2 linked regions of the Homo sapiens genome follow. The protein of the gene in region 1 purifies or fractionates together with the protein of each later gene. This does not show direct contact. Each region holds a gene or a part of one and is shown on either strand. Other genes may lie near its edges.

Region 1 (3,825 bases):
CATTTATTAGCTTCTGTTATATGCCAGGCACTTGTGCTAAGCTCTTTATATATATTATATATATGTATATCATTTTAATCTCATTTTAATCATTTTAATCTCACAATAGCTGTATGATATAAGTATGCCTTTATTATTCCTATTATATAAGTCTAGAAACTGAGGATCAGAGAGGTTAAGTGACTTGCCTAAGGCCACACAGCTAACAAACAATTGAATCCTGGCACAAATACAGCCCACTTCACCATAAATCCTTAAATGCTACAGTAAGCAATAAAAGAGAGGAGACTAACTAGAAAAGAGGTACACTGAGAGAGATTGAAGGCAGTGCCAGTGTGGGGCCATGTGGTTATTAAAAATGTTTGTAAATGTGTGTGAAGCTGGAGAACCATCTGGGTCTCTTGACTTCTCAACCTTAGCCCCTACCTTTATGTCTTCCTCCACCTACTACATATGGTCCTTGCTGTCCCAGATGGCACCTATCTGCTGTTTTCAGGGGCCTGGGATGATTTTAATCCCCTTGCAAATTTAGCAAAAACCCCACTGTCTGTATCACAGCTCTATTACAGGACACAACCTCTGAGACTCAGGAAAGGGGCTAGTCCACCTTCTGGTTTCTACCCAGCCTCATTCCCTGATATGTTTTCTGACCTCATTTTTTTTCCCCATCAGTTGCTTGCAACACCAGCTGAAAAGTTTCTAGGACAAAGCCACCTGGTCTGTGTGCTGGAGGTGGCAGGTGTGTTCTTGCTGATAAGGGGCAAGTAAGACAGAAACGTGTGTGACTGGCATGATGCTAGCAAGGTAGGGAGAAAGTCCATCCCTACAGAACCCATGGCAATATTTGTGTTGGGGAATAGAGTGAGAAGCAGGAAAAAACGAAAGATAAAAATGTTAATAAAGAATTGATGATGCGGAGGAAGTAGACCAGGTTCTTGCCCTGTGTATGGTTTTCCTTTGAAGGTGCTGTTTGGGGAAAGTGAAGTTAGTTAGGGAGTTTTCTCCTAGAATGGATCATAGTGCCTTAAGGGTTCTGGAAGTGAGCTGCGAAGCCAGCACATGCTGGGAAGAATCACACATCTGAATCATGGCCACGGATCATGTGGAGGCAAACAAAACAATGCAAAAATCAGGGTACCAAGGACCGTCTCTGGATGGCACTTGCTTAATAAGGGGCTGAAAGGGTGTGTGTAATTTAGAGTAGAAAGTATTGAGTCACTTCAACAACAACCACAGCTAACATTTACTGAGCACTTAATATGAGCCAGTCTCTGTGCTAAGAGCTAAGTGACATGAATCATCTCACTTATTTCTCACAACAACCCTCTGAGGTAGGTACTACCATTATCTCCAATTTACAGATGGGGAATTGGAGGACCTGAGGTTTAAGTGACTCACCCAAAGTGCAGAACTGTTGAGGGGCAGAGTCAGGATTTGAATTTGGGTATTTCTCAAACCCAAGTCCACAGATTCATAACTTCTCTGCTTTACCACCTATCCTAAATCAGAAATATTACTAAAGTGTAGCAGAATGAGGAAGAAGAGAGATCAGCTATTCAGGAACCTACAATCCTTTTGAAGGCTTGCCAAGTTCCTTTGCTTTAACTGTATTAGGGAAGGAATAAGAAGAACCAGTGGAATTTGCACCACCAGGACCTCTTCCTGGAGGAGTCTGGTGATCTTGCCTGTTGGTTTGAAATAAATGCACACTGCAGAAACCTACAGCTGTTTCTCAAGTTTTCTTTTTACACAATCATCTAGGGAGGGTTTTAGACATGTAGGCACAATAGGCAATTTTTTTCTCTCTATGGGCTGGCACCATGAGGTGTGACTATTGGTTCCACCCTAGAACACTGGTTGGCACAGGAAGCATCAGGCCTCTTTGAGCCAACAAAAAGAGCTTGATGAGCTTGTTTTTTAGATGAGTCTAGGTGAGCAGAACAGACTTTGGGCTTCAAAAGCTCATGGACAGAAAGTTAAACGAACTTTTTCAGGGTGCCAGGTTATCGGCAAGTCCTTTGAAAGAGGTGTTTTACAAAATGGTGCCCTGTGACAACAGGTTATTTATGCTCTCTGAGTGGAGTACTTTATACTTAGTATTATCCTGGCCTGAGCTCATCATAGAATCAAGTTCAATAATAATACCTATTACACTCTCCTGCAAGGGCTGTAACTCCTTCTACATTTTGTAGCATGCCTCATGTGTGGCAGGGCACAATAAACAGTCAATAATAATGTTCACTGTGATAATGATCTTCCAAATGTCTTTCATCTAAGGCTCTCAAAGTGTTTTGGAGATACTAATTAGTTAAACCTCACAGTAGCTGTCTGTTTTTATACATGACATCTTCCCATTTTACAGAATTTTAAATTGAGACCCAGCAAACATAAGTGGCTTGCCCAAAGTCATACAGCATGTCTAAATGAATCTTAATGATGATGCTTTGCATTTACATAGCAGATGTTTTCTAAGGCAGTAAAAGTATGTTGCAAAGATAATTTTCACACTATCCTGGAGGAAGGTGGGTAGCAAGTAGCTTTTGACTAGATTGGCTGAACTGTGGCAGAGAGGGCAAGGAACTCAGGAGGATTTGACCGAGGATGTAAGTCCATTCCTCTGACTCTCTAAACAGACTGTGGCATCCAGACAACCCTCAGTTCTCTTAACTGTGGGATGCATGGTTGCTTTCATGGTTGCAAAAAAGATAGGTAATATTTTTGGGAGCAGAGGCACGTTGCAGAACAGCAGCCATATTGACATCCAGAAATAGGTTTGTTCATATCCCCACTGAGGAAGGCAAAAGGAATGAGAGGAGTCACTTCAAGAAAGGATAGTTAGGACATAAAGGAATTGGGAAGTGGGGGTGCCAGCTCTGCTCTCTTGCAGAGCATCTTTCTAGCCCAGGTCCTGCCTGAACACAGGAGCCCTTGAGTTTCAGCCTCACCACAGGACTTGGTCCAGAGCAGCTTGGAGGGTGGGCACAGACGATAGTCTGATGTTATAAGTCCCTGCAAAAGAATTCCAGAGAGACCCAGTATCTTAATGGCTGTCTCTTATGTACAACCAGCTCTCACCTCAATTCCCTGTGCCAGAAGGGCCCTGAGAATCCTCTATAGTTCAAAAACTTGGTAGCTGTGGATCCATTCATCGCTACCTGTCCTTTGCAACACAGTCACATTGAGAAAGATGTAAACCACAACAAAAATATTCCAAGCTGATAAGGGAACTGCCTCCTCCCAGTGTGACACCGTTTCCTGAGTAAGTGATGATACTCCGCTGAAAGGCAGGTCAGACTTCTGCAAGGTGGGGAAGGGAAGAGGTTGCTAGGTCTTAGGAATTCAAGGGGGATTTGCTGACCCAGAGATAGAGCTCTTTTCTCTACAAACAAGGCATGTTTGAGAACAATTTGCTTCCCCACCCCTACTTCGCCATTTCCAGACCTGTGGATTCTGATTGATGACTAGACCAGGGGTAGTGGAGGGACTTAAAAAGAGTTCCAAACCCTTTTCTGGAATGTGTCACTTACAAGCACAATGGCAATAAAAAGCCTACAGTGAAGAAATCAAGGGTGTACAGTGAAAAAATGTCCTGCTTCTTCCCACCCTCATTGTTGAATGTTTACACATGCGCCATGGGTGGTTTAAAGATGCAGTGAACCCAGGAAGTGGTAGCTCTTAGAAGGAAAATTTCGGAAAGTTGTTCCAAATGCGTATCACAAGCCACTCCTCACTCCTGAGTAAGGAAGCAGTCCTGCAAGACCCTCCCACACGTTATTCCTCTTCAGAGCAGGGAGATGTGGGACACTGCTGCCAGCATTTAGACTC
Region 2 (4,091 bases), on another chromosome or scaffold:
AGTCATATTCCCCATAAACCACCCTATCACCTTGAGTACCTCTTACCACAGATTAAAGGGATCTGTTTTACTTGCATATTTAATTTTTTAGTTGGCTTCTAGATGCATCAACTTTTTCCACTGGCAACTTTAGTATTTATTTAGAGACCAAAGGTTGAAATCAACATACTAATCTTCAACTAAATAAAACAGTATCACCTGCACATCACTGGTACTACTCAGGATCTAGCAGAGACTACAGAAATCATTTAGATTTCCTGCTATATTTGCCACAGAGGAATCTGAGGCCTAGAGAATCTACTGTAGGGGTGGCTAAATAGTGACATCTTTAAAAATAAATTTAGTAGTCATTGAAAATATTATATTTAAGATACCTAATTTTTGCAGAATCATTTCCTACATTGTGGCTATTCTATCAAACCAAATAAGAAAAAAAAAATTCTTATGAAGGTAAAATATTGAATAAATCAGTTATTAATATCCATTTCTCAAAATACATTGAAGTGTCCACAAGGTGTCAGGTATAGTGCAGAGTTGTGCATGGGGTCTTTAATCACTGGAATTATTGTGTGAACATCCACTTACCTGTTTTTTTTCCTCCCAAATATATCAATCAAACCACGAAACACCACACACAAAACAAAGCTACTTCTCCAACTGATCCACACTTGGCAGTATTTATTGAGGATTTCAATACACCAGGCATCATTATCATGTTATACATATTTACAGAAAGTGTATGGAAATGGAGTAAGAAAAAATTTCACTGTTACTAAACAGACCTATTAGGGTCATTTTGTAAATAATAATAATTATAATAAGACTCTCGTAAGTTTCCCTGTCCTTGAATGCTGTAAAGAAACAAAACAAAAACATGAGACAGAGACCACTGACTTAACAAATGGATGACTTTATTAAGAGAGAAGGACAAGACTGATGTTTACCTTGGTCAAACCATCCAGGAAAACAAAGCACACAGACTTATAGAATACTTTGGTTTAAAAATTATTCATAATATCAATATTAAACCTGATGTTTAAAGAACCTAATGAGAAATATAGTGTAAAAAACAAACCATGAAAACACAAGTTTGCATAGATGAATTAATGTAGATGTACAATTGGCATTTAAAAAAGGAGGTTTGCGTTTTGGGAGTGCCTTAACGATGTTGAACACCTCAACCTCCCAAGACACATGAAAGTCACCAGCACCACAATTCTCATTTTCCTCAATGAGGTCATGAGCAGGAACAACTTGTGCTGTACGGAGGTGAACTGAAAGAGACTGCTTCCATTGGCCTAGTCCAGATGAGTGTATATATTCCCATCAGAACCCACCACTGGTCATCTTTAAGGCATCCACAAAATGTCCCTCACAAATTCACTTAATCTCTAGATAGGCATGTGGTCTGAGGCAGCCTCTTTGTTTTCTGTCCTCACACAGGCAACTGCATTCCATCAAGGTTCTGTTCAATTCCACGAACTAGCTATTTCAAAGCTGCCTATTCTTCTGGGGCTTGGTTATAAATCCATGTGGATTTGGAATAACAATCCATTTGTTTTATAAATATATCCACATTCCAAATATCAAAGGGGCACTTCCTAAGGAATCTGAAAGTGCCCAGGCAATGCGTAGTCTCTCTCTCAAGAGATCACGTTTCTAAATTATGAGACAAATGATAGCATCACCTCAGGTTTCCTGGGCAACTTGATTTATATGAGCAAACTCTTGTACTTTTTAATTCAGCACCTTTTCAAAATATGTGCTGGGATGGATTCTTCTTAGGGAAAGCCCCATATAGAATTCTCATTTTGGAGCATCATTTTTATATGCTATCTCCCCAGTGTATCTTCTCAATATTTATAACACTTTATGAAATAAATATTGGGTTGCCTGTAAGAAGAGAAAAATATAGCTCTTTCTGAGAAAGAGCATTTGGCTTGCAGTTTACAGCAAGAGCTGAAATTAGAGACCATAGGGATTTCCAAGACCAATTTGACCAGAAATACAAAAATTCTGATGTCAAAAACCCTCTCACAAAATTTAACAGGTAGAAATTATTTTAGCAGTATAGCCTGAAATCCAGTGCAACAAAAATGTATCCCAATTCTATGATATGTCATAGTATGTTCTCTTAGCTGTCTTCCCTTACTTGTTCTTACTCCTTACTTGATCTTTTGGGAAGAAAATGTCGCCCAAACCCATCTTTCAATTTTTCTATTCTTTATATGAACCTCAGCAATGAATAACAGGGCATTAAGTTACACAATTAATTATGCCCTTATCTGAAATGCTGAAACCTGCACAGTGCTGGTTCTCTATGCTATGAAGTTAACTCAAAAAGAGAAAAAACATTTTCTTCTAGTTTGCTGAGAATGTACAAATGCATCTTAAATCTATTAAAATGTTACTAGGCAGTGTTCACATATTTATATATATAAGGGAAAGAGAATGGTTTTTAGGGCCATATATTTCTACAACTCAACATGATTACACGATTGTGTTAGCCTGTGGCATCAAACAGAATCACCACTCTGGTGTCTTTCTTATCAAAGCAAAAGTTTTCCTGCTTTTCTCTTATAAGTAATAAAACAGAAACACTCTTCACATTAGCAAACCTCCCATTTCAAGTAAATGTCTCTGTTTTGTTCGGTTTTCTCCTTTTTTTTCCCTGTTAATGGTTAAGCATTTCAATACACAAGGGTGTTGGTGAAATTCTTACAAATAATCTGAATGTCTTCACTGCATAACAGAACCTTTGGAAATATCTTCTATGTAGTCACCATAGAAGACAGTCAACTCTCAGTTACTCAAGAAGTGGTACCTGGTATGAAGGATTTGGCCAAGAAATTCTCTCCTTCTACCAGTCTTTTTGGTCATGCCACTGCTTATTCAGAGGTGGACAGACAACATGAAATAAAATTATGTATTTATTGTGTTACAGATCAGCCACAAGTCAGTGGCAGAAAAGGTCCAAAGCTTCTGATGACAAGGATACTTGGGGATCATCTGTGAATGTTATATCTCAATGGAAAGCTGACTGTCAGTCACATAAAGGAAGTAACGTACACTGACATCAGTCAGAGTCAAACTAATTTAAGGCAGTACTGCTCCTCACAAACAGTGCTGGCATAAAGTGCAGGTCTCATTGTAAAAGTGACTCTGTAGTAGTAAGATTTTCTCAGTTTACTCTTTCTTTCTTGACTTCTCTACAATTAAATTTCAGCATTTCTAATGACAGTTGTTAAATACCAGGAGCAACAATATCCTGACTCTTTAATATTCTTACCTCTCGCCATGGATAAAAGAGATTCTTCCACCAATAATTTGAAAGACATTGTGCCCCATGCAGCATTAACAGGACAGTCTCCAGTTTGCTTCTACCTGCCCATATTACTTATCATGGGCTAAAAAGAAAAAAAGTATTCTATCAACAGTAAGATAAGCAGATATGGCTTTAAGACTCACAGGCACCACCAGAAATGAGAAAATTGGACCATTTTATATAGTCACTTCTCTATGAGCAGTAAGTAATAGACAAAGTAATTTAAAAATCTTTTTTCCTTTTTGCTGAAGCATGAGGTTTTGATTTTGTTATGATCGTTTCAACAGAATATGGCACTCTATGTACAATGAAGTCTACCTTAGCACTCCTTACACAAATACCGTCTTCTCAAAAGGGAAAAAGCCTTTGGCTGCAAGTTCTATTCTATTATCAGTCCTTCAGAAAGCTGTTTACACAGAGATCTCACTCCTTTATTAGGGTGAAGATTTTACAGCCAATCATCATAGTTATCTTTCAAGAAAATAATCACTGAATAATGAATCATCTTGGTATTCCCCAAAGCGATGCTTATACAAAGGCAAGACATAAAAAATCTAGGACTTAAAATGTTAACCACTTGTGGAGTAAACTGAATGCACCATATTATAGTGGGTATTTCCAATTTGGCACAACACAAATTTTAGACAAGTTTTGACAGAAACTATTAAAGAAAATTAATAATCAGTTAAAAGCTAATTATTTTTATACTGAAAAGTTCTAACTTTGAGAGAAAGTGATGAGCAACAGTCAGCAAAGAATTTACTCA

Evidence for each region.
Region 2: the proteins of SH3RF2 (region 1) and CCDC50 purify together in Homo sapiens (affinity purification with mass spectrometry, with the first as the bait; one study listed by BioGRID). This does not show direct contact.

What each region holds. Positions count from the first base shown.
Region 1 is NC_000005.10:145,939,308-145,943,132, reverse strand, and holds part of SH3RF2 (E3 ubiquitin-protein ligase SH3RF2), read right to left. Parts: intron 1-3,825. UniProt on the Homo sapiens protein: Has E3 ubiquitin-protein ligase activity. Acts as an anti-apoptotic regulator of the JNK pathway by ubiquitinating and promoting the degradation of SH3RF1, a scaffold protein that is required for pro-apoptotic JNK activation.
Region 2 is NC_000003.12:191,395,232-191,399,322, reverse strand, and holds the end of CCDC50 (coiled-coil domain-containing protein 50 long isoform), read right to left. Parts: 3' UTR 664-4,091; downstream 1-663.